5 linked regions of the Homo sapiens genome follow. The protein of the gene in region 2 purifies or fractionates together with the protein of the main gene of each other region. This does not show direct contact. Each region holds a gene or a part of one and is shown on either strand. Other genes may lie near its edges.

Evidence for each region.
Region 1: the proteins of GPHN (region 2) and SPTAN1 fractionate together in Homo sapiens (co-fractionation; one large-scale study listed by BioGRID). This does not show direct contact.
Region 3: the proteins of GPHN (region 2) and ENAH purify together in Homo sapiens (affinity purification with western blotting, with the first as the bait; one study listed by BioGRID). This does not show direct contact.
Region 4: the proteins of GPHN (region 2) and SLX4 purify together in Homo sapiens (co-immunoprecipitation; one large-scale study listed by IntAct). This does not show direct contact.
Region 5: the proteins of GPHN (region 2) and MAGEA4 purify together in Homo sapiens (co-immunoprecipitation; one large-scale study listed by IntAct). This does not show direct contact.

Annotation. Positions count from the first base shown.
Region 1 is NC_000009.12:128,627,071-128,632,586, reverse strand, and holds part of SPTAN1 (spectrin alpha chain, non-erythrocytic 1), read right to left. Parts: coding exon of another isoform or gene 5,497-5,516; intron 5,202-5,496; coding exon 5,089-5,201; intron 4,663-5,088; coding exon 4,645-4,662; intron 3,463-4,644; coding exon of another isoform or gene 3,400-3,462; intron 2,267-3,399; coding exon 2,212-2,266; intron 461-2,211; coding exon 264-460; intron 157-263; coding exon 103-156; intron 16-102; coding exon 1-15. UniProt on the Homo sapiens protein: Fodrin, which seems to be involved in secretion, interacts with calmodulin in a calcium-dependent manner and is thus candidate for the calcium-dependent movement of the cytoskeleton at the membrane.
Region 2 is NC_000014.9:67,108,137-67,114,452, reverse strand, and holds part of GPHN (gephyrin), read right to left. Parts: intron 6,080-6,316; exon of another isoform or gene 5,991-6,079; intron 4,314-5,990; coding exon 4,194-4,313; intron 2,593-4,193; coding exon 2,534-2,592; intron 1,436-2,533; coding exon 1,282-1,435; intron 1-1,281. UniProt on the Homo sapiens protein: Microtubule-associated protein involved in membrane protein-cytoskeleton interactions. It is thought to anchor the inhibitory glycine receptor (GLYR) to subsynaptic microtubules.
Region 3 is NC_000001.11:225,641,781-225,648,096, forward strand, and holds part of ENAH (protein enabled homolog), read right to left. Parts: intron 1-6,316. UniProt on the Homo sapiens protein: Ena/VASP proteins are actin-associated proteins involved in a range of processes dependent on cytoskeleton remodeling and cell polarity such as axon guidance and lamellipodial and filopodial dynamics in migrating cells.
Region 4 is NC_000016.10:3,588,291-3,594,606, forward strand, and holds part of SLX4 (structure-specific endonuclease subunit SLX4), read right to left. Parts: intron 6,310-6,316; coding exon 6,163-6,309; intron 4,576-6,162; coding exon 4,409-4,575; intron 3,021-4,408; coding exon 712-3,020; exon of another isoform or gene 1-711. UniProt on the Homo sapiens protein: Regulatory subunit that interacts with and increases the activity of different structure-specific endonucleases.
Region 5 is NC_000023.11:151,910,297-151,917,327, reverse strand, and holds the start of MAGEA4 (melanoma-associated antigen 4), read right to left. Parts: upstream 4,440-7,031; 5' UTR 4,359-4,439; intron 1,819-4,358; exon of another isoform or gene 1,691-1,818; intron 1,092-1,690; exon of another isoform or gene 1,008-1,091; intron 404-1,007; exon of another isoform or gene 326-403; intron 1-325. UniProt on the Homo sapiens protein: Regulates cell proliferation through the inhibition of cell cycle arrest at the G1 phase. Also negatively regulates p53-mediated apoptosis.

The sequences.
Region 1 (5,516 bases), on a different chromosome or scaffold from region 2:
TCCTTGTCAAAGTGTCTGCAGCACAAAGCCGAGGGCGGCTCAGCAGGCAGCCCTGCTGCCGAACACCCCCCACCCAGCCAGGGCGAGTAAGGCTGAACTCACTTAAACATCATGCTGAATTCTTTGAGGGCCTCCTCAGTCACACCTGTTGTGTTCCTGGAAGAAAAACAGAAATTAGGGAACAGACCCTCCACACAGCAGGTGACTGTGTCTTTTCCTCCCCCTGCTCTGGGCTGAGCCTGGCCCACAGCCCTCCCGGGTACCTGGCCTGGATCTGCTGCTCCAGGTTGTGCTGCATGCGCATGCCCAGCTGGTCCAGCTGGTCCCACTGCTGGGCGAGGCCCACGGTGCTGTGCTCCGTGTACTTGTTGTCCAGGATGAGGGCCTCCTCCATGGCGGCCCCCAGGTCCTCGATCTTTTTGAGCTGACTTCTCATGGCTCGGATTTCCTGGTGCTTGCGCTGCAGGGGTGGGGAGCACAGATGCTCAGACGGGGGCCCTCAGCTCAGTCACCAGCCCAGGAGCCACTTACTGCCCTCTGGTTCCTGCTCCAGGCCTGGCCTGAGACCTCGTAAAACAAGAACATTCTAGAATAGGAATAGTGGGATGGGGTGAAGCTGAAGAAATCCCAACCACCTCAATAGAGGGAGAGACTTTCAATGTGAGGGTTCCAAAGCAGCTGGTAGACCTGCCAGAGGGCAGTGCACGCCAAGGACAAGTACGGCGAGGACTCCAGGAAGCAGTGGCCAAAGATTTTTATAAATTTTTTTGAGATGGAGTCTCACTGTCGCCTAGGCTAGAGTGCAGTGGCGCAATCACGCTCACTGCAACCTCCCGGGTTCAAGTGATTCTCCTGCCTCAATCTCCTGAGTAGCTGGAACTAACAGGTGCCCATCACCACACCTGCCTAATTTTTGTATTTTTAGTAGAGGCGATGTTTCACTGCATTGACCAGGCTGGTCTTGAATTCCTAGGCTCAAGTGATCTGCCTGTCTTGGCCTCCCAAAGTTCTGGGATTATAGGCATGAGCCACTGCACCCAGCCTTATTTTTAAGACAAGGTCTTGCTATATATTGCCCATGCTGGACTTTGAGCAGGTGTAGGCCACCATGCCCAAGTAATTTTTTTCAGAGGGAGTTTTGCTCTTGTCACCCAGGCTGGAGTGCAATGGCCTGATCTCGGGTCACTGCAACCTCCGCATCCCAGAATCAAGTGATTCTCCTGCCTCAGCCTCCTGAGTAGCTGGGATTACAGGTGCCTGCCACCACACCCAGCTAATATTTTGTATTTTTAGTAGAGATGGGGTTTCCCCATGTTGGCCAGGCTGGTCTCGAACTCCTGACTTCAAGCAATCCACCCGCCTCGGCTTCCCAAAGTGCTGGGATTACAGGTGTAAGTCACCACACCCAGCCCCAAAGACTTTCTTTAAAGTGAAGAGCCCTCGGCCGGGAGTGGTGGCTCATGCTTGTAATCCCAGCACTTTGGGAGGCTGAGGTGGACAGATCACTGGAGATCAGGAGTTCCAGACCGGCCTGGCCAACAAGGCAAAACACTGTCTCTACTAAAAATATAAAAACTAGGCCAGATGTGGTGGCTCACGCTTGTAATCCCAGCACTTTGGGAGGCCGAGGCGGGCAGATCAGCCGAGGTCAGGAGTTCGAGACCAGCCTGCCTGGCCAACATGGTGAAACCCTGTCTCTACTAAAAATACAAAAATTACCCAGGTGTGGTGGTGGGCGCCTGTAATCCCAGCTACTTGGGAGGTTGAGGCAGGAGGATCACTTGAACCCAGGAGGTGGAGGTTGCAGTGAGCCAAGACCACGTCCATTGCACTCCAGCCTGGGCAACAAGAGTGAAACTCCATCTCAAAAGATAATTAAAAATAAACAAAAATTAGCCAAATGTGGTGGCACACATCTGTAGTACAGCTATTTGGGAGGCTGAGGCAGGAGAATTGCTTGACCTGGGAGGTGGAGGTTGCAGTGAGCCAATATCGCACCACTGCACTCCAGCCTGGGCGAGAGAGAGATTCCATGAAGAAAGAAAGAAAAGAGAGAGAGATAGTGAAGAGCCCTAGACTGCTTTAGGCCAAGGGAAAAGGGTACAATAATAGCACATCTGGTTCCTGACTTTAAGCCAGGAAGGGAAGGGGTACCCTGGGGGGTGGCTGGGTGAAGGGTCTCTGCTGGGCCAGAGCCCCACGGGCACTTACTTTGGTAGCTTCAAGCTGGGATTCGAGGGTCCCCGACTCTTCCACCATACAGGACCTAAACGTGGAAGGACAGTGAGGAAAGGGGCCTGCTCCCAGCTGGCCGAGAGCTCAGAATGAACCTTCTCTCAGAGAGAGCAATGCCTGGCAACCTCACATTCCTTTTAAGGAAACCAAACCTAACTGCAACTGGCCATCTTTACCTAATGGGCCCCAGGGATCGAGGGATGGCAGGGAGCATTTCTCCCGTTTTAGAGATGGGAAGCTGCTGCCTTGGTGTGGGCCAGGGCTGAGCCCACTCGTCTTGCTCCCAAGGCCAGGATGACTCAGGAATGGAGTTTAAATTCCCCCATGGGTGCAGGGTGGCTGCAGGCCTGTCTGAGCATCCTCTCTGCAGCCATGTGGGGGATGGCACACCCTGACACCTGACAGACAGGAGACCTCAGGGCAGAGGGGAGGCTGAGAACCTGACAGCCTCCCCACAGAAACCCTGGAGTGTCCCGGCAAGGTTCCTGAGGGAGGGAGCCCCATTCTAGGGGGAATGAGAGCACGACCCTGCAGACAAAGGACACAAGTGGAGTGCTGGGAGATCACGACCAACTGTGCCAAAAGGAGAGAGATGGCTGTGACTAAACCCCAGATCCCGGTTCCATCCTCTAGACACAGCCAGGGAGGGAGCCTCCTCTCTAGGACCAAGTTCTGAGAGCAGATGGGCTCTGGGGAGCCTCCTTCCCAAGAGAACACAGTGCCAGGTCACAGAGGCTACCAGTAAACAAAGACAACAAACGAGTTAGGGTTACGTGCAGGGACGAATCACACGGTGCGTGTGGCCTTGGTGGGGTTTTAGCCCAGGCTCCCCTGTACCCACATTCACCCCAACCTACCCTTTTAAAACCCGGCGAGCCAGGGTTAGCTCTGCAATCTCCCCAGGTTCAAAGTGCTCTAGCAAGGCAAGGCACCAGGCTTCCTCCTACCCCAGCAGGTCAGACTCACAGTCACGCCATGTCCCCCCGGGGAAAATGCCCCCCAGGACCTGGGGGCAGGAGGCTGGGTGCCGGTGCAGTGGGAGGACAGACCCCTCCTTCCCAAGCAGCCGAGGGCGGCAGGTTAGTCAGGGTGGAGCCGCCTGGGGATGTCAAGAGTGCATCAGTAAAGCCACAGTGAGGTAAGAAGAGAAATAAGGAGAAAAACCTTCCAGACAGATCATCCCCAACTTCATACTGATAGACACGAATGACCCGACGATATGCTATGCTATTCAAAGAAAAGAAACCAAATGAATACACCAAAGGGAGGGGAGGCAAGAGCACACTGCAACAGACACACACAAAGCCCAAGCTGGCAGGGCGCAGGCAAGGGCAACCTGGTGCCCGGCGGGTACCTGGAGGCAGCAGGCCCAGTGGTTCACCCCAGGCAGCTCACACTAGGAATGGGCAAGATGGGCAGGGCTTGGGAGGAGCCATAAGGTGAGGGGAGCGTGGCACCTCACGGAGACAAGAGCAAGACCAGCAGACACAGGCATGGGGCAGGGAGGGGAGTCAGGTGGCCAGGGTGTCCTACGGGCACAGGCCGGAAACTGCGATCCCTACGTCCCCAGCTGCTCTGCCATCAGAATGTGTGGCCCGGCTGGATGGGTCTATTTCTCCCCTGGCCGCCTATACAGGCTTGATGTGCCTGGGTGCAGAGCCTCAGGAGTGCAGGCCAAGCCACTCCAGTCCCAGCAGCCCTGGCTTTCACAGCAGGCTTGGCAGATTACAAAGGTGACCCGGCCAGGCAGAGGCCCCAGGCCAAGCAGAGAAGTCCCTGCCGGGACTGGGCGGGACAGCCCAGCCCTGCTCCTCCCTGGGGCTCCTCCCACGTCCTGTCTATCACATAACGGGTGCATTTTTGCCTTCTATTAGGGCGGACAGTCTTGTTACCCTCCCTGACCCCAGGAAAGTAAAGTGGCAGCCTCAGCTACTTAGGGGGTGTCAGTGCCCAGCCCTTCTCAGCTGTGGACTTACTGTACCCTGCCTGAGCCCCCAGCACTGCCATCTGCTTCATGCCCACTGACCACTGTTGGACTCGCTGGGGAAGCAGAGGTGAGAGCCCAACAGAGCCCGGTGGCTGGACAGGCACGGGGGTTCTTAGGGCCTCTGGACTCCAGCTCTGGCCTTCGTGCTTCATCACCTTCCCTACCCAAAGTGAGCCCTTGGAATCGCCCAGTGAGGCAAGGACGGCTCCCCCTGGCTTGAAGGCTCTATCGGGGACCAGGGACCATGGGCTATGGGGCAAGGCACACACTCCTCATCAGGTGACGAGAAGGGTGGGAGGGGAAGTGCAGCCCGCCCTGGGCAGGAAGGCCCATCCCGGGATCCTCCACAAGCCAGGCCACGAGGGGCAAGCGCACGAGACCCCCACATGACAAGCCCAGAGAAGGAAGAAAACAATATTAACCCATCGAGGAGGTATGTCCTGTGGAGAGCAGATCCAAGCAGCCGGGAGACAAGGTGGTGTCCGGACAACAGCAGCAATCGGGGGGACAGAGAGAAGACACAAGAAAGAAAGGAAAACAAAAGCAAGAACATCAGTACCCAACGCACAGACCCTGCATCGTCTGTCACCAAGTCATGGCTGGGGCTGACCACGCGCCCTGCATGGTCCCACTCAATCCGGGATCTCTAACAACTTGATGTCTGGGACATGCAGCACTGAGAGGCTGCTCCACCTATGCCCCCACTCCCGGCTCCAGAGCCCGACCAGGCGTTGCCAGCCCAGCTTTATTCCCAGGCTGCCTCTGGTTTTACACAAAGCACCACCACCTCCTTGGGGCTGGAAGCTCCCCAGGGCTTAAGTACAGCAGGGACATGCTGCTGCTCCCCGGCCCCAGCGGGCTGGCACCTGGTCTCTTGGATCCACTGGTGGAAGGCGTTGGCGTGCTGGGCAAACTCCTGGCGCAGCTTGTCGTTCTCCTCCTGCCGCCGCTGTTCCTTCTGCAGCTCCAGCTCCCTCTCCTGAGGGCCAAAGGGGGGCAGATGCTGTGCGCTGCTGTGGCAGTGACACCAGCCCCTCCTTCACAGATGGGCTCAGGGTGGTGGTGGCCTCCCCACAAGGAACCTCCCCAAAGATGAGAGGAGGAGGCTGGGAGACATGAGGCCGGCTCAGAGCACTTGGTAGTTCTTTCTCTGTTCCCACCCCCCAGGGGCTTCAAGGAAGAGGCGGACCTGGAGGGAAGCGACTGGTCAGTCAAGCAGGGAGTTGCTGGACTGTCAGAAATGGAAACTTCTGGCTGGGTACAGTGGCTCACACCTGTAATCCCAGCACTTTGG
Region 2 (6,316 bases):
TCCCTAAATGCTGGGATTACAGGAATAAGCCACCATGCCTGGTCCATGAGTGTGCTACTGTTTAGCTTTCTCAAACTCCATGAACTTACTTGTTGCACAAAGCATGTAAGTATATCATAAAAAAGAATAGTTCACTGAGTCAACCAGTTTAACAAAAATTTATTTCTGATGCTATATATAGTGTTATTTGGTTCTAAGGATATTAAAATCATTACTATGTAGATCAAATTGAAAAGAATGTTTTTTGTCAATCAATAGTTTTTGGAAATGACTAGTGCATATATACTGGGAAGTAAGCACATCTGGAATGTTGATTTAGCTATCTATTTGCAAAATAAAACAGTCTATTCTTTTGCTTTAACCAAAAGGACTATAATGTCATAAAAAGACCTCTGAAAATTTTCATTTCCAAGACTTCAAGAAATTAAAAATAATGATGGGTTTATTTTCAGAACAAAGAGATTTTTAAAAAATCCCGCTAATCTTTTCTTTAATAGTAAGGTCAAAGGAATTATTAATACTTTTAAAAATCTCAATAGTTTCTGATTCTTTTATAAGGTTTTGAGTTTCCAGCAGATTCACTTTTTAGTATTCTCCATTTGACCTTGGAGCTTCTGACTGAAGTTTTGCACAACCTAAGCAAAACAAGCAATAGGAAGTTTTTCAAGAGTTCTCAGAAAGAGATGGACTAAATTCTCTTTTCTAAATCAGGAATGAAAAGACATTTTGACCCATTCTAAATATCATGCCACTAGAGATGCTATCTTTAGGGAGAGAGAGAGGAAAAAAAAAACCTGATTATCAAATCCCTCTTAGTGATTAAAGATCAAATGGAACTTTTCACAAGAAGTGCTAGCCATGATGTCCTGATTCATTGATACTTCCCACACAGAAGTAGCTCATCATTTCAGCAGCAGGATGGGCACAATTCATTGTCTAAACAGAAACAGTACTGAGTTTGTATAGTTTAATATCTATAGCTAGCAGCTAAAGTTTTTTGCTTATGTGTACTGACTTTGTGGAAAGGCCATTGGTTATAATATTTCATTCTAATAGAAGAGAACATTTCATAATACATAATTTTTACTAGTTCTTCTTTGTTCTCATATTCTGAACTTGAAACTATCCTAAAGCCAATTTATTGTTTCCCTGTTATAAGAATGTGGATCCACTGGTATGATCTATAATCTACAACATTCTATTTACAACACAGAACATATGTCAGAAATACCTTTATCTTATGGGCCCTCTCCCCACTCCCTCCATTTTTATTTTTAATACCTCATTCCCTGTTGACATGACTGCAACCACTGGAAACTTATTAACTTCAACCTCTGTGACACCTACAGTTGCCAGAAGACCAATCTCTGAGGGGCCCATGTGGGTTCCTTTGGCCAAAACACATTCCCCTCTTTTAATGTCATGGCCGATGGGTCTGAAAGTCAAAGCAGAACCATAAGCAGTGTGATTAGAGAACAACATTTTCTCAACTCAGAGGGAAACTTTAGTGTCAAAAAAGGACATTCAAGAAGACAAAAAAGTCTAGAAATAAAGTAGTAGGAAAACAATGAATTGAAGGGATTCTAAAAATCCTATGCTTTTTTAATTTTAAAAGTTAAATCACACAACAGAAAACAGAAATAGGATTTGAATGTATTACTGCTAAAGAAAAACATGTTACTTCATATTTGAAATTTTTTTTCATGAGTACCTGTGAATAAAATTACTTTACAAATTGTTTTATGTTACATTATAGTAAAAATACCAATTGTAAACTTTCTTTGATAAGGCAAGAATTTGTATGGCAATATCTAGCGGCATTAATGATAAGAGGTCCACAGCTGGCTAGCTTTGTCAAGGAGAATAATGCTAATGAGGCTACAGTCATAGAGGTAATTTCCATATGGACCACTTAGGTTGGTCCTGATCTGTGGCTACTGAGGTACATTAACCTTGGTGTGCTGCCATAGGGATGGGAGAAGTGTAGCTTCGTTACAAAGGGATGTTCAGCAAATTAGTATTAATGGAATCAGGGTAAACATATTCCATTTTAAGAAAAATAATTTAAGGTATATGCACTATTTATCATAGCAAATAGCCTCATCTTTGTATATAACAAGGAACAGATTATTCCATTATTATTGGTAGTCACTAGAGCATATGCTATTAGTTAATTGTGTAAATACCCAATTCTGGTATTATCTGAGTTGATACCAAATTCCAGATTATTTAGGGATGGGATTGGGTAATTCTGGATTATCTAGAAGTAGAATTAACTGTAGAATATGTAGGCTCATGACTTTACCTCTTTCTCATCTTGCTTTTGACTAACTCGCCTTTACCATCTTCATTAAAAAGTAGGCAGGGCAGATATGTGATACAGAATTCATAACATTCATTTTGCTTTTTGTTAAAGCCCTGAAAATTAATGGCTAACTGACATGGCTGCAGATTTATAGTAGCCAGGGTTTCCTGAGTAAATGATCATGTAGAAACAAAAGTAGGCTATATATTCTATGTGTTTTGAAGTTACCTGATATCTTGGCCTGGCCGAGCTTGCACCAGAATTCGCACTTCAAGTTCTTCAGTGCCCTATAATAACAGCCGGTCATGTAATTTCAAACAGAATTTCTGAGCAGTAGAATTTAGTTACTCCGATACTTTTACCATCAGATAGGCCCAGGATATATACAAATATAGACAAAAAGAAAACTATTTGCTACACCCTTTGAAAACACTGAATTTCTAACACAGGTTCCTGAAAAATTAGAAGGTTTGGTGCCAATAAATAAAAAATTTTTTTCTCCAATTTTTATGCTTTTAAAAAATGTACCAATTCAAATATTAAATCTTGTTTATAAGATTTAATATTTGAACTAATACATTATATAGAATTTGTTTATATATTTTTATATACATATGTAGGTGGCTACCCTAATAAAGTGAACGTGTGTGGAGGTAATATCTTCCTTCTTTTCCCATGAATCATGGGTTCAATACCATGCCAAGGTTACCAAATACTTGCAGAAATTTCAGTAAAGGACTTATAGTTTGCCTGGTAGTAGATTTCTGTCCATTAATTGCAGTAATCAATTTTACATTTATGGGCTGTGAATAATATTGTGACATTGGAACTGTGTCTTGTCATCTGGCAGAGTCTGTGGATGTATGTGTTCTGGAATTCAGTGCTTTGCTGGCTTCCCTGATGCCAATAAATCTGCTTAGGCAGTTTTAACAGCAGGCAATGTGATCTGTTTGCCAAGGGTTGAATTTTATAAGCCTTACATATGGAAAGGTGATTAAAAAGAAAATCTCCAGATCAGGGAAAGTGTCTGTCTCTTGGCATGGCCAATTTTACTATCTACTCGGCTTGGGAGAATATATGTTTATTTTTCACCTCAGCTTTAAAATATATCTTTACTTTCTTCATAAAACAAGTAAGAGAGCTGATTATTAAAACCTCAGTTGAATCTATTCTACTTTTATTACTGGCTTATACTCTGGTTTCAATAACCTGCCACTATTTTCAGTGAGATAAAGGCTTGCTTAGGTCCAAAAAGATTCCAGCATCTTTTACTTGAGGCAATGGAGGGAGAACTGACATACACTTAATATTTCCAGGCTGTCATTTGGTGGCACAGCTTTTTCCAGACTTACAGAAAACCAGAGGTGAAAGGGTCATTTGGTTCAAATGCTTGGCTTAGTGTAATATTCAAGAACTTGCCCAAGTGCTCTTTGTTAAATTCTTCTCTAGTAAATTCTGATTTCATGAACTCCTTGACATTTTATCAGAAGCTAGTCTCAATGGCAAATTTCTCAGCTGGAAGGTATGTCAACCATTAATATCTCTGCTCTGGAAGGTATGTCAACCATTAATATCTCTGCATTTCTTTCTTGAGGTACTTTCTTTCGTTGTTTGCATGTGAAACTGCTTGGGTCAAATATGATTCAAATTCTGCTATAACAGCAATGATCATAGAAACCCCTCCTGTAACAACAGATTTTCAAGATTAAGGAAATTTCTTATTTACTGGAGACTCATATACTACAATATAAGATCCCACCATAAGCAAAAACAAAACAAAACTAAACAACCCAAAAAACTGGGTTAATCTCACAAACACTGCAGAAAATGGTTGTGACATAATACTGCCATAGGAACAACAGCACAGTAAGACTTGGTGATGACGTACATCATCTGATTCCCTGATAAGTTCGGTATCTTCCACTTGTACTACTGCATCAGCACCGCAGGGTATTGGAGCACCTGTTGTAACCCGCATGACTTGTCCTGGCATTACTGTCTGAGTTGGCTGGAAATAAAGATGAAAAAGACAGTTGATGTACTTTGCTGCTGCAAAGGAAAAGTCTGCAGAGGATGTTAATTTTTTTAATATTAAAAAATAAACCATAAAAGAAAGTCTTACAGTCTTATTCATTTTGGGCCAGTGTAATAAAAGCTATCCACAAACAGGTGCACTCACACTAAAGGGGCTTTAGGTTCATTTAAGCTGATTTTATGTGTACTTTAAGGTAATGACTATTCGGTGTCTTGGTGCTCTGCTTTACTTTTGAAGAACTGCCATTTACATTTGCCACTTTTGCCTCTCAAATAATGTACATTTTCCTAATATATGTAAAGTGATTTGAGAGTCTGTAAGTAAAAAAATTGCTAGGACATACATTGTGAATAACAATTACAAAAAAAAATCTTCATAACTTATTGAAGTTCTAATGTTTGAGAAATGCAGTACTTTATTAACTAAACTTTTTGGTTAAATAAAGGCAAGCCAGAAATATTTTAATTATTGCCTTTGAAAATATTCTAAAACACATTAGCTCACCTATCAATTAATAATAGAGGTTGAGCAAATATAATTAAATCATTTAAAAATGATTCCAGTGTCTGTAATGACCTAGGTTAAACATTACTTTTGAAAATGAAAAACAAGATTTTCATTGTTTGTGCTCTCATATTGATGGTATAAGAGACAGAACCTTCCCTGCTAACTTCTTACAACATGAGGAAAAGCATTTTTCTGTAAGATTCATCTGATAGATTTGATCTGATAGAGAAGTGATCTGAAAGTCACTTGTCAGGGGCAATGATTTAGACTGGAGTTTGGAAAATGAATGCTTCAAATTCTCCCTAAGAAAAAATCCTGAGACAATATTAATCCCCCCTGCCAAAAGATTCCTTTCTAAAGATGTCTGCCTCATAAGTATAGTCACGTGCTGCATAAGGATAGTTTGCTCAATGTTGGACTGCATATATGATGGTGGTCCTATAAGATTACCATATTTTCTACTGTACTTTTTGTTTTGATAAACAAATACCATTATAATTGCTTACGTATTCAGTAATACTGTAATATGCTGTGCAGGTTTGTAGCCTCGGAGCTACAGGTCACACCATGTAGGCTAGGTGTGTAGTGGGCTACTCATGCAGGTTTGTGTAAGTACACTCTATGATGGTCGGACAACAAGAAAATTGCCCAACAACATATTTCTCAGAATATATCTTCATTAAGTAACTCATGACTCTATTTAAAATCTTAAGTCCCTACAATGTGAATATATTTACCACTACTGAACTATAAGCTTAAAAACTGTCAAGATGGTATATTTAATGTTATGTGTGTGTATGTTTTGTCATTGTTGTTATTTTAACCACCAAAATAAGACAAAGTAAAATAAACCACACACACACACACACACACACACACACACACACACACACCCCTTAGGGAATGGTTAAGAAAAAAAAATACCTTACTACTGAAAGTACAATCAAAGTAAAACAGGAAATTTATTACAAAAGTCTTAAAAATCTTCTCTCCATAATATTATTACTGTAAGCAATACTACCAATAACTAATATTTATTGAACCCACAATCTATGCTAGGTACAATGTTAAGTGCATTATATATTACAGAATATAAGCCTTACAAAGACAAAGATTTGTTTCATTTTCTGTTTGCCTCTCCAGATCACATCATCATTCTCTACTCTGTGCTGTGGTCCAGAAGCTGACCTCTATGGACTATTTTAACCAGTTTCCCACCACTTTGGCGTCTGGTGAGACTCAGCCAAAGGGAGGGGTCAGTAAGAGATGTAGAGGGTAGGAGAGAGACAGAAAAGTAGAGTTTTCATTCCCCTTGCTCTTTTCCTCCTGGGCTGCAGTTTGGTGATGGTTAGGGCATCTCTCCTACTGAGAGCAAGAGCTGCTGTTGGGCAGTCCTCTCCCACAGATATGAATCTTCCCAGGTTCAGGTACCATTGTCTTTCTTTGCTCCTTCAGACTAAGATGTGGTA
Region 3 (6,316 bases), on a different chromosome or scaffold from region 2:
GAGGCCGAGGCAGGCAGATCACCTGAGGTCAGGAGTTCAAGACCAGCCCGGCCAACATGGTGAAACCCTGTCTCTACTAAAAATACAAAAATTACCTGGGCGTGGTCTCGTGCATCTGTAATTCCAGCTACTTGGGAGGCTGAGGCAGGAGAATCACTTGAACCCGGGAAGCAGAGGTTGCAGTGAGCCAAGACTGCACCACTGCACTCCGGCCTGGGGGACACAGCAAGACTCCATCTCAAAAATAAAAATAAGAACAAATACAAAAAAATTAGCCAGGCATGGTGACGCACACCTGTAATCCTAGCTACTCAGGAGACTGAAATGGGAGGACTGTTTGAACCCAGGAGGCAGAGGTTGCAGTGAGCCGAAATCGCATGACTGCACACACTCCAGCCTGGGTGAGAAAGAGTGAGACTCCATCTCAGGAAAAAAAAAAAAAAAAAGAAGATACATATAGTAAAGTTTACATTATGACCACCAATGAATCGCACCTCTTGATCTGTCCTTGTGTAATCACCTCCCCCACTGACTTTGGGCTTGACCATATGACTTGTTTTGGCCAAAGAAACATAAGCAAACAGGATGCAAGCTGAGGTCTGGTAAGAGCTTTCATACTAGGGCATGTTGTCATGAGGAGGCTGCTATTGTTAAGTGAGCGATGAGGCAGAGGGATGGGATAGACACACCAGATGAACCTAAGTGAAGGAAAACACACGAATGAGTCCAGGTAAGAAGAGCTGCCCAGCCAATCCGTAGCACATCTGCAGTCTCAGCTACTCAGGAAGCTGAGGTGGGAGGATCACTTGAGCCCAGGAGTTCGAGGTTGCAGTAAGCTATGATTGTACCACTGCACTCCAGCCCGGGTAACAGCTTTACTAGGCTTTGAGATGCTTTGTTAAACAGCAGTAATATCGGATACGATATATGTATATGCACTATGAAGAGTTAATATCCTCATTATTATAAATCATTAGAAGAAAAACTACACATCTCATTGGGAAAACAGAAAAAGCACATGAACAGACATCCACACAAAAATAAAGCTGTCCAATAAACAAACAAAGAGACCCTACAGGTAATCAAAGAAATACAAATTAAACCAATGAGGTAACACCTTTTACCTATCACATTGGCAAAGATTAAAAGACCGATAATGGCCTGAGCTGGCCAGAATGTGGGGTAACTAGAAATCTCATCTACTCTTGCTTATCTGGTAACGTGTATCAAAAACTGATACAACTCCCTTTAGTCATTTTGTTTATTATTCACTCAAATACTTATGCATACTCACAGAGGCCTGTGCTGGGAACTTGGAATGCAGAGCCAGGTCACGCAAGACCTTAATAATTTTGGTTTTATGACAAATTTGGGTTTTAGTCTAAGATGCCGCTGAAGGCTTTACATGGGAAATAACAATATCTGATTTCCACTTTAAGAGTATTCTGAGTGATGCATGAAGAACAGGGGACATGAATGGAAATGAGGAAACACTAATAGTTCAGGTAAGAGATAACAGTGGCCTGGACTTGAGGCAGTGAGATGGACAGAAGCAAGTGAAGGTGACCTGGTAGGACAATGATAGACTGGATACAGAAAGGTAAAGAAACAAAAAATAAAAAAAAAAACAAAACACAGCACTACTTCTTGATTTTACTTCTAGGAATGTATCCTAAAACAGTATCAGATATGTACACAAAGACATATAACCAAAGATGTTCACAGCAGTGTTTTTTATAATAACAAAAATAATGGAACAAATCTAAAAGTCCATCTTTAAGATTTAAGTAGACAAAGTCATCCATCCAAAGCAATGGAATATTATGCAGTCACTTAAAGTTATGTAGCTATATAGTTAGGAACAAGAATTACTGGCTGGACACAGCAGCTCATGCCTGTAATCCGAGTGCTTTGGGAGGCTGAAGTGGGAGGATGACTTGAGGCCAGGAGTTCAAGACCAGCCTGGGCAACATAGCGAGACCTTGTCTCTGCACAAAAATCTTAACAATTAGAGGGTGTGGTGGCGCACATCTGTAGTCTCAGCTACTCAGGAGGCTGAGATGGGAGGATCGCTTGAGCCCAGGAGTTCGAGGCTGCAGTAAGCTATGATTGCACCACTGCACTCCAGCCTGGGTGACAGTTTAAGACCCTATTTAAAAAATAAAAATAATAAAATGTAAAAAGTATAGATATTATATATATGGAAAGGGACAAGCTACAAAATACACAATACAAATATAGTATAATTCCATTTTTAAATAGTATAATCTTACTTTTATATATAATCATATGCACACGCACAATGATCTGCAATGCTGCAAATGCACTACAAAAAGTTTAGAAATCTACACATTAAAATATTAAAATACTAGATGGCTTGGATTTAACATTTCATAAATAAATGTTTTATACTTTCCATACCTTCTAAAATCTGTTCAAAATCTGTACTACTTTACAATGGAAGGAAAAAAGTAATTTAAAAAAATACTGACCAGACATATGGACAACAGTAATTGATTTATTTTTCTAAAAATAATTCTAAAAAAATTGTGCAAAGACCACAATTAAGTAGACTGTAAGTAAAAGTTTTAAATGAAAACTTAAGATACATAAATCTTAAATTGTTAAAAACTGAACGGTCACAATTTTGCTTGCAATATCAGTCTAACATGAGAATTTGGGGGAGGAGGAGAAAGACTGCAGAACAAAGCAGATATTCAAATAACCAGTATATAATAATTATTAAGACTGCATAAAAAGATCCCTTCACTGAACTGTAAAAGGAGCAATTTGGACTCCCTTGAGATTTGACCTCAAGAGCTATTCATTTTATTTTACTTAAGTTCTTGGTTCTTCATAAAGCTCCCCCGCTGCCAAGTTGCAAATGTAACAGATACCAAAAAGGACAGAAGACTGAGGACCTCTAAGGCACAGTTAAAGGTAGTCATTTTGATTTCACATCATCAGATGTATTCTTACCAAGACCAGATGTTCTATAAGGCCTTTACCACTGGAAAAGGGCTCAGTTTATTTAAAAATATCATGATTACCTCATTCCCCAAAGACAAAACTTTTGGTATTTGAGACTACTGTAAACAAACCCCAGAAAATCACCACCCAGATTTAAGTTTTCTGAAGATTCTGATGGATTTGCTTCATCACATTTTACTGGTGACTTTAGTCATCCTTACTTACAACAGGCCTACCAAAGAGATGGCTGGCTGTCTCCTTAGCACGAAGATACAGCTCCAAAATTTGTTCAGGCCTTTCAAAGCCACCACTACCAAGGTTTCCACCTCAGCATTCCCACGTGCTTGTTTCCCTACAGAGAAATGTCCAGTGGTTCTATCTTCAATCTCTCTTCTTTAAATAGCACGAAGATGTCAATTCAAAATATTAATCCAAAGTAATAAAAATGTCAGAAACAACTCACGTAAAAAGCAAATGAGATCTTCTGGTGTTATTATATAGATCTGTCTATTCTGGGCATTTCATATAAATGGAATCATGGCATATATCGCCTTTTGTGTCTGGCTTATTTCACTTAGCATAATGCTTCCATCTACGCTGTGGCATGTATCAGAATTCCATTCCTTTTGATGGCCAAATATTATTCTGTTGTATGGACATACCACATTTTGATGATCTATTCATGAAATCAGACACACCTGGGTTATTTCTGCTTTTTGGCTGTTATGAATAACGATACTATAGACATTTGTGTACAAGTTTTTCTGTGGACAAATGTTTTCATTTCTAGGAAAGGAATTGCTGGGTCATACGATAACTCTATGTTTAACTTTTGAGGAACTGCCAAACTGTTTTCTAAAGCAGCTGCACCATCTTACATGGTTTTTCACATTCTTAACATAAACTTAAGAGATGTCAGACTTTCATAAAAGTGGGGGATTTACTCTTATCAAGCTCATTTTGTGTGCCAAGTGTTATGCCAGAATTTTATTTAATTTTCTCAACAGCTCTATAATTCACAAAGTATATTCGATCCCAAAAAATGTTTATAACCCACTCAAAAATAAATTATTTAGTAAATGTCAAACTAGAGTCAAACCCAGAGTTAACTTCAAAGCCTGTCCTCTTTACCCTACACCATTCAATCTCTACACTTAGATATACATACATTGCCTCATACCCAAAGTAGTCTTTGGAAAAGTTGCCTGTTAATAAAACTTACTTTAATCATTGTAAAATAGAAGGTTCCCAGTGTAAAGAGATTTCTAGAAAATTTAACGGATATCTTGTATAAATCAATCAACCCCCCTAATTTATCTTCTTTAGTAAACAACTTCTGGTTACTTAAAACAAAACTTATCTAAAGTTCACCTAAATATTAAACAAATTATTTTCTTCCAAAGTTGTATGCACTGACAAAAAAAAAAAATGTAGTTATCTTCTGCTATAGACTGAACTGTGTTCCCCTAAAATTTATATGTTAATACCCTAACCCTCAATGTGACTCTATTTGGAAAAAGGGCTTTTAGGAGGTAACTAATGTTAAATTAAGTTATAAGCACAGGGCCCTAATTCAATAGGATTAATGGCCTTATGAAATGAGGAGGAGAGAGAAATCCCCCCTCATCTCCCCGACCCCAGGATTCCCATACCCACCCTACCATGTGAGGACACAGAGAGAAGGATATCTTCTGCAAGCCAGGAAGAGAACCCTCACCAAAACCCATCCATACTGGCAACCTGATCTCTGACTTCCAGCCTCCAGAACCTTAAAATAAATGTCTAGGCCGGGCGCTGTGGCTCCCACCTGTAATCCCACGAGGTCAGGAGATCAAGACCATCCTGGCTAACACAGTGAAACCCCATCTCAACTAAAAAATACAAAAAAATTAGCCAGGCGTGGTGGCAGGCGCCTGTGGTCCCACCTGCTCAGGAGGCTGAGGCAGGAGAATGGTGTGAACCCGGGAGGCAGAGCTTGCAGTAACCTGAGATCGAGCCGCTGCAATCCAGCCTGGGCGACACAGTGAGACTGTCTCAAAAAAATTAATAAATAAAAATAAAAAATAATTTTCTGTTGTTTAAGCCACCCAGTCTATGGTATTTTGTTATGGCAGCCCACACTAATACTTCAAGAGTATCATACACTACCCAGTGATTGGTATTTGAAGCACTGATAAGAATCAAAACAAAGCAGGGCTGGGGGCGGTGACTCACGCCTATAATCCCAGCACTTTGGGAGGCTGAGGTGGGCGCATCACGAGGTCAGGAGATCAAGACCATCCTGGCTAACATGTTGAAACCCCATCTCTACTAAAAATACAAAAAATTAGCTGGGCGTGGTGGCACGCGCCTGTAGTCTCAGCTACTCGGGAGGCTGAGGCTAGAGAATTGCTTGAACCCAGGAGGCGGAAGCTGCAGTGAGTGGAGATCATGCCACTGCACTCCAGCCTGGGCAAGAGTGAGACTCCATCTCAAAAAACAAAAACAAAAAAAGAATCAAAACAAAGCAAGCACTAAATGGGGTAAAAATAAATTAAACCAATAGAGATGCATATGCTTGTTACTTGAAAATATTTACAAGTTCTTTGGTCAAAGAGACTTAAAAACAGATTGATGGCCCTTTCAGTAATTCAGAATTTAATCATAAAGTCAAGTAAACATGGTATCCTCCAAAGGGCTTAGAATTTAGACAATCCTGACACTTGTAGCCACTTCCAAGCTCTGTGTTAGAATAAGAAATAAATTCTGGCCAGGTGAGTTCAAAACCTGCCTGGTCCACATAGCAAGACCACATCTCTACAAAATAAAAATTAAATTAAAATTTAAAAAAGAACAAAAGAAAACCAAATTCTACACCTATTCCTGGAGTCAGGATGTGAGTTTTTGCTTGCTTAATTAAATTATGTTATTAACATTTAGTATCCACCAAATACTACACTACACCCTACAATATCCAGTAGAGCTTCTAGAACACTACAGGTATTCCAAAAATGGGGTTGCTAGTGAACAGATTCTATAAAAGAGCAACGCAGTCAAAGTCAAACACTTACACAGGCCACCCACTATTTGCCAAGTATTTTGCTAGTACCATGAATATAAAAATGCTAGTATTTTGCTAGTACCATGAATATAAAAATCCTCTTCAAGGAACTTACAATGAAGAGGGACAAAAAGAACCACATAATTATAAGACAGAATAAATTCAATAGCAAAAAAACATGTAAAGTGCACTGGAACACACAGGAATAGTGGGGGACAAGGGGGTTGGGGGAGCATGTTAGGGGCAAGTCAAGGACTATATCCCAGGTCTGACAAGGAGTCCCCTTCTTGTTTCTAGTCAGGAAAA
Region 4 (6,316 bases), on a different chromosome or scaffold from region 2:
CTATTCTAGACATTTCATATCCATGAGTGCAGACAGTACATGACCTTCTATGTCTGGCTTCTCTCACCCGGCAGCATGTTTTCTGGGTCGTCCACGCGGTAGCGTGTGGCAGTGCCTCACTCCTCTTTGTGGCTGAACACTATTCCATTTTCTAGTGGTCTAGATGGACCACGTTTGGTTTCCCTGTTCATCTCCTGACGGGCATTTGGGTTGCTTCCAGCTTTTGGCGATTGTGAACAGCGCTTCTATGAACATGCATGTCTGAGTCCCTGTTTTTAATTCTTTTGGATATACAGGTAAAAGTGGAATTGCTGGGTCCTGCAGTCAATCTACGGTTAACATTCTGGAGAACCACCCTGGTCCAATCTTAAGGCATGCCGATACTTGCTGAATGAGTTGTGGCCTTTGGAGGTGCCGGCTCCGTGTTCTGGAGAAGGGTCCACAGATGTGGATTTTTAACACATGCCCAGGTGAGCACTGGAGCCAGGCAAGTTTGGGAAACACTGACTTACTGGCTGAGAAGTGTAGCATGAGAACCAGCCCGGCTCTCCTCCACTGTGGAGGGGAGTCTGGAAGGCAGCGGAAGTGTCATGCCTCAGGTCAGCAGGCATTCAGAGGGCAGCCCCTGGGTCTCATGACTGATCTTCCCACCCTCTTAGTGTAAAATAGTAACAAAGACAGTCCCCTTCCCCAGCTCTCCTGGCTACTCACTGGGTGTCTCTAACCCTTCGGGCTTCTGAGCTCCACCAGCGCTTGGCATCTGGGCCGGAGGAGGGGTCTCTGGAGGCCTCTGCTCTTCCCCGTCCCAAACGTCCCACAGAGCCGAATTCAGAAAGCTCGGCCTGCTATTCCCCAGGGAGCCCGCGCCCGAGGACTTCTCTTGCAATTTCCTCTGGGTAGTGCAGCTTCCTCGGATGGGGGTGGTGTCCAGGAGTCCCGGGGAGCGACAGTCACGGCTGTCGGCGGCCTCGTTCATCCTGCGGCTGGGGCTGCTGGTGCTCAGGGGGCCGGTCCGCTCCAGGTTCCAGTGGTCAATGGGAATTGGCGAGAGGGGCTCCATGTGCCAGCAGCAGTCGTCAATTGGAATTGGGGGGTCACTGTCCAGTGGGGGGCTTCTGTTGGCCTGATGGGAGGCCACCTCCTGCTCATCGTCACTGTCTCCGACTTCCACCACTTCACCCGCTGGGGTCTGGTTCAGGAAGCTTGGCCCAGGCGGCGAGTGTTTCAGGAACCGCCTGCTGAAGTGGGCGCGGTCCCCTGAGATGGGATGTGGAGCCAGCGGAGAGGAGTGCGGGTGGCCCCCGGGGTGGGGACGGGAAGGGCTTCTGTGGCCTTGCCTTCTGCCGTCAGAAGTTCCTGGAGAGACGGGAGTGAGGCATGAGGACGGTGTCTGGGGCGGTGGTGTCTGGGGCCTGATGACAGAAAACTTCTGTGCGACTTCGTTCCCTTCCCTGTTTCCTACTGAGGCCCTGGGCGTGTGCTGAGTCACCGCCTGCACGGCCAGCCCGCTCCTGAGGCTGCTGATTTGGGTCTGGGAAGAACAGTCACGGCTTCTGCTGGCCAGCGGGGTGGCGGGCACCAGCCACGAGGTGTCTGTGGTGCTGGCCTCGCTGGGGCTGCTCTCACGGTCACAGAACAGCCAGGGAGCCCCTCTCCTGCCCAAAGAGCCCCGATTCTCCGGCAGCGCCCCCTCATCCTCCTGCTGCAGCACAGCTTCGCTTCTTGGTGGGCTCTGGGAAGGTTCCTGATCTGCATCAACATCAATGATGGAAAACAGCTCACAGGACCTAGGGCTAATTTCTAGAGCTTTCTTTTCTTCCAGAGGATCACTAGAAATGGACTTCATTTTGGTTTGTTCTAGCTCCAGCTCCTCATCCGAGTCCAGTAAGAGGATGACCTCATCTTCTTCGTTCAGTTTGGATGAAGATTTCTGAGATCTGGAGCTCGAATGGTCAGGATTTGACTGGGTTAGGTCAATAGACGGAGATTTTTCTGGGAACATCAGGACCCCCTTATTTCTGCACTCCAGCACGGACCGACGCTCTTTGCCTTTCTGGTGCCCTGGCTCTTTAGACAGCGTGAGGATGCTCCTGTCCCTTTTCTGCTTTGATGGCACAGCTGGAGACAGCAAGGTTGGGGAGCCCACCTGGGAAGTTCCGCCACGGGACCGGGGTGTTGACAGGGACGACCCACTTGTGTGATGAGACCCGCGGGGACTCCCGCCCTGGGGAGGCCCCAATAGGAAGCGGCACGGGTGCGGTGGAGATGCCTGCCAGGGAGCCAGGCGATGAGAAACCTCCAGCCCCCTTTCCCTGACAGCGCCACTTTGTTCCTCGGGCTCACTTGTTATTTGGGACGGCTCTGAGATCTCTCCCTGAGTTGATGAGAAGAGCTGTTCGTAATCCCCGGCATCATCTGAGTGCGGAAGAGAGCCTTCTTTTCTCTCTGCCTGGCAGTCCCTGGAAGGGCTGGAGCAGCTGGAATGGCCAAGCGCCTCCTCTGGCGCCTCCTGCTCAGGGGCCTCTGCTCCCCGTGCCCCTGAGTGCTGGCCCTGGGGTGGCGGGAGAGCGCACTGTCCCATCTTCTCCCAGGTGGTGGCGGCCTCATCTCTTCCTGGCTCCAACGGCTCCATCTCCTCCACCTTGTCCCACTGTTTCTGCACCTGGACACCTGCTAGGAGTTGCCCAGAAACCGGACTGCCACCCTCCAGCCAGTCAGCGTCCTCGCCGGCACCCGCTGCCCTTTCTTCCTGGAGAAGCTTTCGCTGAGTAGCTGCAAATTCATAAATTTCTTCCATTTCTGCTTCATTCACGTTTTCTTGATCTTCTTCGTGGTCCTTGGATTTCAACAAAGTCTCCGCTTCCTCCTCTTCATCTGCCCACATTGACCTCAAGAGTTCCTGGAAATTCTCGGCCCTGCTTTCGCAATTCTCTGCTTCCTTCTCCTCCCATGGTTTGCCCTCTGAGTCAGTGGCAATAGGCACCTGTTCGCACAGGTGAACGAGCTCACTCACGCCAAACCTGCAACACGAAACATCGACAGTCATCGCCCCTCTGCGTGGAGATGGGCTCTGGGTGCCCCGGTGGGGTGGCGGACCAGAGCAGAGTCTTCACCAGGAGGAATGACCATGACCCAGGCCCTGCTTCCCTTTGAAGACGGTGTCCACACTCCTTGCCAGAAACACCCAGGCCACTTAGTTCCAGAAACCGGGGACTGACAACACTTAAAGCAGGGCTTCCTAACTATAGCTGCAGACATAAAGGGGTGTGTCGGACTGAATGTAAGGTAACAGGGATTGGCAGAGCTACAAAACTGGGGAGTCTGTGCTGCCTCAGAGGCTCTTAAGATATGGTGTCAGAGCCAGGCATTGTGGCTCATGCCTGAAATTCCAGCACTTTGGGAAGCCGAGGATCACTCAAGGCCGGGAGTTTGAGATCAGCCTGGACAACATAGAAAGTCTCCATCTCTACAAAAAAATGTAAAAATTAGCCTAGGAGTTCAAGGCTACAGTGAGCTGTGATCATGCCACTGCCATCCAGCCTGGGCAACAGCAAGAGACTCTGTCTCTAAAAGGATAAAAAAGGTCATGCATGGTGGCTCATGCCCATAATCCCAGCACTTTGGGAGGCGGAGGCAGGAGGATTGCTTGAGGTCAGGAGTTCAAGAACAGCCTGGGCAACACAGCGACACTCCGTCTCTCCAAAAAATAAAAAATAAATGAAAAGACATGGCATCAGACACAATCCACAGCACACCAAGTCCTTGAGTCAGCCCAGGCCAACGGGCAAGCCAGCCAGCCACCTGCTTGAAGGCTCTGTGGCCCGTCAGTATATTTCCAACTCCAGAGGCTGAGCTGTTCCTTTCCTAAGAAAGCAGCGGAGGGAGGACGCAGGCTCGGATCAGCGGCCCAGGCCCTGTCCAGAGGCACAACACTTGTCCCTCTGAGCTGCTGCCTCTCTCCTAAGATGCTGGCTGGACAAGCCAGGAGAGCTGTGGCATCTGGGATGCAGCCTAAGCATTCTCTCCATGCCTGTTTTATGGGACTCTGGAAAGGACTGCTGTTGTTCAGGTCTAGTGGTGGAACAATCACTGAGCAGCAGTGTTGGGGGGCGCTGTAGCCAAGGGCCATTCTCTTATCACACCTAGGGGGTTAAAAACCACGGGACTCAATAGAGTCCTCCTGATCCAGTGCTTGGCACCCCTGCAAGGGTCTGTTCTGGCCTGACTTTCACCTAACATGCCCTGTTCCACAGGGTCATCACTGGTCATGGACTTGGGATTAAAAGGTATAAACAGGACTGTTAGTTCTCTTGGCCTCAGCCCCGAGCCCTCTGCAGCACAACCCTCCAGAGCTGTTAACCTGCCAGTCCTCGTCAGTTAATTTCAAAAGCTGGGGAGCAATCCAGACCTGTGGGCCAGGGAGCTCAGCTCAGAGCTAAGGCCAGGAGGAAGGCCAGTGTCCGCAGTGTAGAGATAGTGCAGGAACGTGCGGGCGGCCTCGGTGCTCACGTCACCCAGCAGGACACGCTGGGTCAGAACCCCGTCCTCTACAGCGGAGAAGCCTTCATTGTTCACCTGCAGGTGAAATGCAACACAGAGGGTTTACTGATCAGAGAGTTGTAACTTGGAGCAAAGCAGACGGTCTGGGGTGTCCTGCAAGTCACTAGTCTTTTTATTTTTCTTTTTAGAGACAGTGTCTCCCCTTGTCACCCAGGCTAGAGTACAGTGGTGTGATCATGGCTTACTGCAGCCTTGAACTCCTAGGCTAATTTTAAATTTTAATTAATTTTATTATTTTGAGTTGGAATCTCTCTCTGTTGCCCAGGCTGGAGTGCAGTGGTGAGATCTCGGCTCACTGCAACCTCCACCTCCTCGGTTCCAGCGTATTCTCCTGCCTCAGCCTCCCGAGTAGCTGGGATTGCAGCCGCCCACCACCATGCCCGGCTAATTTTTTATAGTTTCAGTAGAGATAAGGTTTCACTATGTTGGCCAGGCTGGTCTTGGAACTCCTGACCTCAGGTGATCCACCCTCCTCGGCCTCCCAAAGTGCTGGGATTACTGGCGTGAGCCACTGCGCCCAGCCCCTAGGCTAATTTTTAAATTTTTTTGTAGAGATGGGCTCTCACTGTGTTGTTCAGGCTGGTCTTGAACTCCTGGCCTCAAGCGATCCTCCCACCTTAGTCTCCCAAAGTACGGGGATCTCAGGCATGAGCCGCCGTGCCTGGTCCCTAGTCTTAAAAGCAGCTCCATGCCCCAGGAAAAGCATTAGCCACTGTTTATGCAGATTTTTGGCCAATAATTTTACAGGTGAGGCCTAACACTCCTCTTTTGTCAAATCGTATTGGGACTAGATATTCCAGGACCCCGTTAAGAGTCCTCCTGATAGACACATATGGGATCCAGAACTTTGACAAAGACTGAGAATAGCTCCCTGAGTTCCTGCCCACACTCAAGTCAAATGCTTTCAAGTCAGAAGGCAGGTTCATCAGCAACTCATCCCTGAGGAGATCAATTATGAGCCTTTGTAATTATGCAAATAGAGAAAAGAGAAAACAATTCTGGGAAACAATGGATTTTCTTTTTGTTTTGTTTTGTTTTTGAGACAGAGTCTTGCTCTGTCGCCCAGGCTGGAGTGCAGTGGTGCAATCTCAGCTCATTGGAAGCTCCGCCTCCCAGGTTCATGCCATTCTCCTGCCTCAGCCTCCCGAGTAGCTGGGACTACAGGCGCCCGCCACCATGCCCGGCTAATTTTTTTGTATTTTTAGTAGAGACTGGTTTCACTGTGTTAGGATGGTCTTGATCTCCTGACCTTGTGATCTGCCCGCCTCGGCCTCCCAAAGTGCTGGAATTACAGGCGTGAGCCACCGCGCCCGGCCAAACAATGGATTTTCATTCAACAGAACGAAAACACTGATGTTTCCCAGTTGTGAGGCCATCCCCTCACACCCACTCCTAACCTCAAGCGTGGGTCTTTATCTCTTCTCCACGTGTTGCAGAAACGGATGGTTGGGAGGGAGAAGGTGAGAACATGGTGGGGCAGGAAGTGAGGGAGAGTGGGGGGGTGGAAAGGGCACCTGAGACATGGGAAGACCTGGTTGGAGAAAGGCAGGAGGAGAGAGGGAGAGAGAGGAAAGGAGGGCACACGGCAGCCCACGTACTTACATACTGGATGAGGAGCGGGCATCGGGCATAAAGCACGAACTTGTGGGCGTAAAGCACCTCCCCGCTGTCCGTCTGAAACTGGACATCACTCAGGTGTGGGTTATTGACCATGGCGCCAAAGTCAGCAACCAGCAGCCCGAGGGAGAGCTGAAGC
Region 5 (7,031 bases), on a different chromosome or scaffold from region 2:
GGGGGCGCGGATGGGTTTAGGAGTGCAAATGGTAATGGGAAAGGGGACGTGATGGGGGATGGGAATAGGGGTGGGGTACGCTTAGCCCTCTCTTACGGTCCTGAGATTGATGCCTGGCAGAGCCTGGCCTCACTAGTCTTACACTAAACACCCTAAGCTCTGACTCCAGAGTCCTCTGCGACTTCAGAGGCAGTGGGGTGGTGGGCGCCCCAGACTCAGAAGTCCGCCCACAGGTGGCCCACGGCTGGTAGCAGGAGTGGTGCGGGATTATTTGGGGTCGTCTATCTGGGGTGGGGGCCTCCTGAGTCCTCCCTCAGCATCTCACCTTGACTCCTCACAGGGCCTGGCCCGCTTCCCTCCGCCAATCCCAAGCGGCTGGTCAGAGCAGCTCGCTTCTCTCTAACCCCCAATGCGCAAGTCAGTGGCATCACATCCGGGCACCTGGGACTTTCTTGGGTTGAAAGCGGAAGCGGAAACCCGATTCAGCGTGGAAGGGGGTGGGAGGGGTGAGGTCGGTGGAGGGGGCGGGTTTTTGGGGGTGGGTTGAAAGCGGAAGCGCAACCCAATTCAGCATCCATGGGGGTGGGAGGGGTGAGGTTGGTGGAGGGGCCCCAGTTTTTGGGGTGGGAGATGGCGGTGTGAGAGAGGTGCGGGGTTGAGGATAGGAGTGCTGGTGGGGGATAGGGGCGCGGATGGGTTTGGGAGTGCAAATAGTAATGGGAAAGGGGAGGCGGTGGGGGATAGAAATAGGGGTGGGGTACGCTTGGCCCTCTCTTAGGGTCCTGAGGTTGATGCCTCGTAGAGCCTGCCCTCACTAGTCTTACACTAACCACCCCAAGCTCGGACTCCAGAGTCCCATGCGACTTCAGACGCAGTGGGGTGGAGGGCGCCCCAGACTCAGAAGTCCGCCCACGGGTGGCCCACGGCTGGTAGCAGGAGTGGTGCGGGATTATTTGGGGTCGTCTATCTGGGGTGGGGGCCTCCTGAGTCCTCCCTCAGCGTCTCACCTTGACTCCTCACAGGGCCTGGCCCGCTTCCCTCCGCCAATCCCAAGCTGCTGGTCAGACAGAGCAGCTCGCTTCTCTCTAACCCCCAATGCGCAAGTCAGTGGCATCACATCCGGGCCCCTGGGGCTTTCTTGGGTTGAAAGAGGAAGCGGAAATCAGATTCAGCGTGGATGGGGGTGGGAGGGGTGAGGTCGATGGAGGGGGCGGGTTTTTGGGGGTGGGTTGAAAGCGGAAGCGGAACGTGATTCAGTGTGGATGGGGGTGGGAGGGGTGAGGTTGGTACAAGGGCCCGGGTTGTTGGGGTGGGAGATGGCGATATGAGAGAGGTGGGGGGTTGAAGAGGAGAGGAGTGCTGGTGGGGGATGGGGCGTGGATGGTTTGGGAGTGCAAATGGTAATGGGAAAGGGGACGTGGTGGGGGATGGGAATAGGGGTGGGGTACGCTTAGCCCTCTCTTAGGGTCCTGAGATTGATGCCCGGCAGAGCCTGGCCTCACTAGTCTTACACTAAACACCCCAAGCTCTGACTCCAGAGTCCCCTGCGACTTCAGAGGCAGTGGGGTGGTGGGCGCCCCAAGCTCAGAAGTCCGCCCACAGGTGGCCCACGGCAGGTAGGAGTGGTGCAGGATTATTTGGGGTCGTCTATCTGGGGTGGTGGCCTCCTGAGTCCTCCTCAGCGTCTCACCTTGACTCCTCACAGGGCCTGGCCTGCTTCCTTCCACCAATCCCAAGCTGCTGGTCAGACAGCAGCTCGCTTCTCTCTAACCCCCAATGCGCAAGTCAGTGGCATCACATCCGGGCCCCTGAGGCTTTCTTGGGTTGAAAGCGGAAGCGGAAACACGATTCAGCGTGGATGGGGGTGGGGGGGAGGTCGGTGGAGGGGGCGGGTTTTTGGGAGTGGGTTGAAAGCGGAAGCGGAACCCGATTCAGCGTGGATGGGGGTGGGAGGGGTGAGGTTGGTGGAGGGGCCCCGGTTTTTGGGGTGGCAGATGGCGGTATGACAGAGGTGGGGGGTCGAGGAGGAGTGCTGGTGGGGGATGGGGGCGCGGATGGGTTTAGGAGTGCAAATGGTAATGGGAAAGGGGACGTGATGGGGGATGGGAATAGGGGTGGGGTACGCTTAGCCCTCTCTTACGGTCCTGAGATTGATGCCTGGCAGAGCCTGGCCTCACTAGTCTTACACTAAACACCCTAAGCTCTGACTCCAGAGTCCTCTGCGACTTCAGAGGCAGTGGGGTGGTGGGCGCCCCAGACTCAGAAGTCCGCCCACAGGTGGCCCACGGCTGGTAGCAGGAGTGGTGCGGGATTATTTGGGGTCGTCTATCTGGGGTGGGGGCCTCCTGAGTCCTCCCTCAGCATCTCACCTTGACTCCTCACAGGGCCTGGCCCGCTTCCCTCCGCCAATCCCAAGCGGCTGGTCAGAGCAGCTCGCTTCTCTCTAACCCCCAATGCGCAAGTCAGTGGCATCACATCCGGGCACCTGGGACTTTCTTGGGTTGAAAGCGGAAGCGGAAACCCGATTCAGCGTGGAAGGGGGTGGGAGGGGTGAGGTCGGTGGAGGGGGCGGGTTTTTGGGGGTGGGTTGAAAGCGGAAGCGCAACCCAATTCAGCATCCATGGGGGTGGGAGGGGTGAGGTTGGTGGAGGGGCCCCAGTTTTTGGGGTGGGAGATGGCGGTGTGAGAGAGGTGCGGGGTTGAGGATAGGAGTGCTGGTGGGGGATAGGGGCGCGGATGGGTTTGGGAGTGCAAATAGTAATGGGAAAGGGGAGGCGGTGGGGGATAGAAATAGGGGTGGGGTACGCTTGGCCCTCTCTTAGGGTCCTGAGGTTGATGCCTCGTAGAGCCTGCCCTCACTAGTCTTACACTAACCACCCCAAGCTCGGACTCCAGAGTCCCATGCGACTTCAGACGCAGTGGGGTGGAGGGCGCCCCAGACTCAGAAGTCCGCCCACGGGTGGCCCACGGCTGGTAGCAGGAGTGGTGCGGGATTATTTGGGGTCGTCTATCTGGGGTGGGGGCCTCCTGAGTCCTCCCTCAGCGTCTCACCTTGACTCCTCACAGGGCCTGGCCCGCTTCCCTCCGCCAATCCCAAGCTGCTGGTCAGACAGAGCAGCTCGCTTCTCTCTAACCCCCAATGCGCAAGTCAGTGGCATCACATCCGGGCCCCTGGGGCTTTCTTGGGTTGAAAGAGGAAGCGGAAATCAGATTCAGCGTGGATGGGGGTGGGAGGGGTGAGGTCGATGGAGGGGGCGGGTTTTTGGGGGTGGGTTGAAAGCGGAAGCGGAACGTGATTCAGTGTGGATGGGGGTGGGAGGGGTGAGGTTGGTAGAAGGGCCCGGGTTGTTGGGGTGGGAGATGGCGGTATGAGAGAGGTGGGGGGTTGAAGAGGAGAGGAGTGCTGGTGGGGGATGGGGGCGTGGATGGTTTGGGAGTGCAAATGGTAATCGGAAAGGGGACGTGGTGGGGGATGGGAATAGGGGTGGGGTACGCTTAGCCCTCTCTTAGGGTGCTGAGGTCCATGCCTGGCAGAGCCTGCCCTCACTAGTCTTACACTAATCAACCCAAGCTCTGACTCCAGAGTCCCCTGCAACTTCAGAGGCAGTGGGGTGGTGGGCGCCCCAGACTCAGAAGTCCGCCCACGGGTGGCCCACGGCTGGTAGCAGGAGTGGTGCGGGATTATTTGGGGTCATCTATCTGGGGTGGGGGCCTCCTGAGTCCTCCCTCAGCGTCTCACCTTGACTCCTCACAGGGCCTGGCCCGCTTCCCTCCGCCAATCCCAAGCTGCTGGTCAGACAGAGCAGCTCGCTTCTCTCTAACCCCCAATGCGCAAGTCAGTGGCATCACATCCGGGCCCCTGGGGCTTTCTTGGGTTGAAAGAGGGAGCGCAACCCGATTCAGCGTGGATGGGGGTGGGAGGGGTGAGGTCGGTGGAGGGGGCGGGTTTTTGGGGGTGGGAGATGGCGGTATGAAGGTGGTGGGGTGTTTGGGAGGATGGGGAGCTGGTGGAGGATGGGAGTGTAGATGGGTTTGTGAGTGCGAATGGGAATGGGAAGGGGTTAGGGGATGGGAATGGGGTTGCGGGATGGGAATAGCGGTGTGGTACGCTCAGCTGGCTTTTAGGGTCCTGAGGTTGATGCCTGGCAGAGCCTGCCCCCACCAGTCTTGCACTGATCACCCCAAGCTCTGACTTCAGAATCCCCTGAGGCTTAAGTGGCAGTGGGGTGGTGGCCCCCCCACCACAGACTGAGAAGTCTCCAGGAGTGGCCCAGGGCTGGCAGCAGGGGTGGTGTTGGATTTTTTGTGGTCGTCTATGTGGGGTGGGGGTCCTCCTGAGTCCTCCCTCAGCATCTCACCTTGTCTCCTTATAGAGCCTGGGCGGGCTTCCCTCCGCCAGTCTCAAGCTGCGAGTCAGACGCAGAAGCTCGCTTGTCTCTAACCCCCAGTGCGCAAGTCAGTGGCATCACATCCGGGCAGCTGGGGCTTTCCTTGGTTGAAAGCGGGGGCGGAACCGGGGATCCTGCCTGGATGGGGGTATGGGTGTTGGGGGGTGGGGGTGCAGGTGTGGGGTGGGGGATGAGGGTGCGGGGGTTGAATTGGGGATGGGGGTATGAGGGTGGCACGGGGTTGGGGAGGATGGGGTGCTGGTAGGGGATGAGGGTGTGGATTGGGTTAGGAGTGTGGAAGGGAATGGGAATGGGGTGGGGGATAGGAATGGGGGTGGGGAACCCTCAGCTCTCTCTTAGGGTCCTGACTTTGACGCCTGGCACAGCCTGCCCCCACCTTGCCTCCTCACAGAGCCTGCGCCTGCTTCCCTCCGTGGATCTCGAGTTGCTGGTCAGACCAATGCGCAAGTCAGGGATGTCACATCCGGGCCACCTGGGTTGACAGCAGGGGTGGAACCGGATTCGGCCAGGGTGGGAGTTGGGGTGGGGGAGGAGGCGAGAGGTCCTGGGGTTAGGGGTTGAGGTAGGCGTGCCCCTCAGTCCTTTGATTCCTGGCATAGCCTGGACCCCTGTTCTCTGCGGATGGTGTCTGCTCCCCTCAGACCAAGGTTCTGACTCCTAGTCCCCTGAGGTCACAGTGGGGGGAGAGGTGTCCTTGGGCGACAAAGCCGCTGGGGTCTTCCAGGGCTGACAGGAGGGACTAAGCTGGATTCTGTGGCCCCTCTTTGAGCGGGGGTTTACCCTCAGTCTTCACTCAGGAGGGTCCTCTTCCTGGGTCCTGGCTCTTTGTTGAAGTGATGGGTTGGAGATGCTCTTTTTCTCTCACCTCTGAGCATTTGCCCAGCTGTACCCCTTGCAGAAAATGGCTGCGGGTACCAGGCGAGGTGTTCCCTGGGTGGCTGCAGCACCCGTTATTGTAGTGACCTCTGTGAGAAGATGCACGCCTTCCCACGGGGGCTCCTCCCCAGCCAGAGCTGGACTTTGGAAACCTTTTTTCCTCAAAGAAATATATTTTACATATCTTCCAAGGATATATATAGGTAGCAACATATATATTTATTTCTATGAAAGAATACCTACCCTTAGTTTGCATGATTCACTCTGATACCCTATTCAACTTCTATTCCATTGTTTATGTTCTGTTAAAATAATTCTTTTCGAGACCAGCCTGGCCAACAGGGTGAAACACTGTCTTCACTAAATATAGAAAAAAAATTAAAAAATTAGCTGGGCGTGGTGGTGGGCGCCTATAATCCCAGCTACTTGGGAGGCTGAGGCAGGAGAATCGCTTGAACCTGGTAGGCGGAGGTTGCAGTGAGCCAAGATCGAGTCATTGCACTCCAGCCCGGGCGACAGTCTCAATAATAATAATAATAATAATATTAATAATAATAATAATAATAATGCTAATCCTCATCCACTAAGTTGGTTTCAGGTTGTAATTAGCAGATCTCCGGAACCATACTGCCTTAACCAACCCAATTTTCCTGCTGTCCTGCTATTACCCTAGGGTTACTGGAATCGTGTTTTGAGGTGCTGCCTCAGATTGTGCAGTGCAGTGAGGTGGAGATTTTAAAATGTTCATCCTATTCATTCTGTCATCTGACGTCTAGGCAGGCTATAGACTTCAACATCCCTGCAGCCAACCCCCCTCCAACTGACACCGCCCCAAACATAAGTACCAGTTCAACACAGTCCTCAGTCTCACCCAGGACTTTCTGTGTTTTGTTGCTTAGATTTTATTGCTTATATTGTTGTTTTTTCTTTCTTTCTTTTTCTCTTCTATAATTTTCCAGAGTTGATTTGGGAACCAGAGAACAGCAGCCTAAGTGTGACTGTAATTTTTGGCAGCTACAGGTAAGACACTAAATTGTAAATCATTTAAGCAGAATTGACATTTTTACAATGTTCTGCTCCTGATCAATGAATAGGTTATGCTCCTTTACTTATTTCAAACTCCTTTTACCTGAATCTGTCAGTATACTTTGATAGTTTCCTCTAGAAAGACCTTACACATTTTTCTTAGGCTTCTTTTTTGGTAATTCTTGGATTTTGTTGCTATTGCAAATGGCATATTTTCTATTAATTGTTCTAATTAATGGAAATTAATTAACTCTAATAGTTATTGCTATTGTGTGGCAGAGAATTTGATTTTGCTATAGTAATCTGTTGTACACCTCATTCTGAAAACCCATTGACTTGAATATTCCACATGCCTTTTTCTTTGAATTTTCAAGAATGATAAGGGTATTATCACTAAACATTATGTATTTTTCCTATATTCATGCCCCTTATTTATTATGATACTTATAGCTCTGACTTTGTGTCTCAATGATGATTTAAAACGTAGAGATAATAGCCTACATCTACTTCGTGTTCCTGCCTTTAATGATAATTCTTTGAACTTCTTAAATTTGTTTGCTGTTGATTTTAGGAAATGTATGTTCTCTTTCAATATAGGTTAACTAAATATTTTTACCATGAACTCATATTGAATTTCTTCCAAAAGCTTTTCCTGTACCCATTGATGTGATAAATTTTTTCTCCTCTATTTTGTGTGTAAAAAATTACAATGAAACTTTT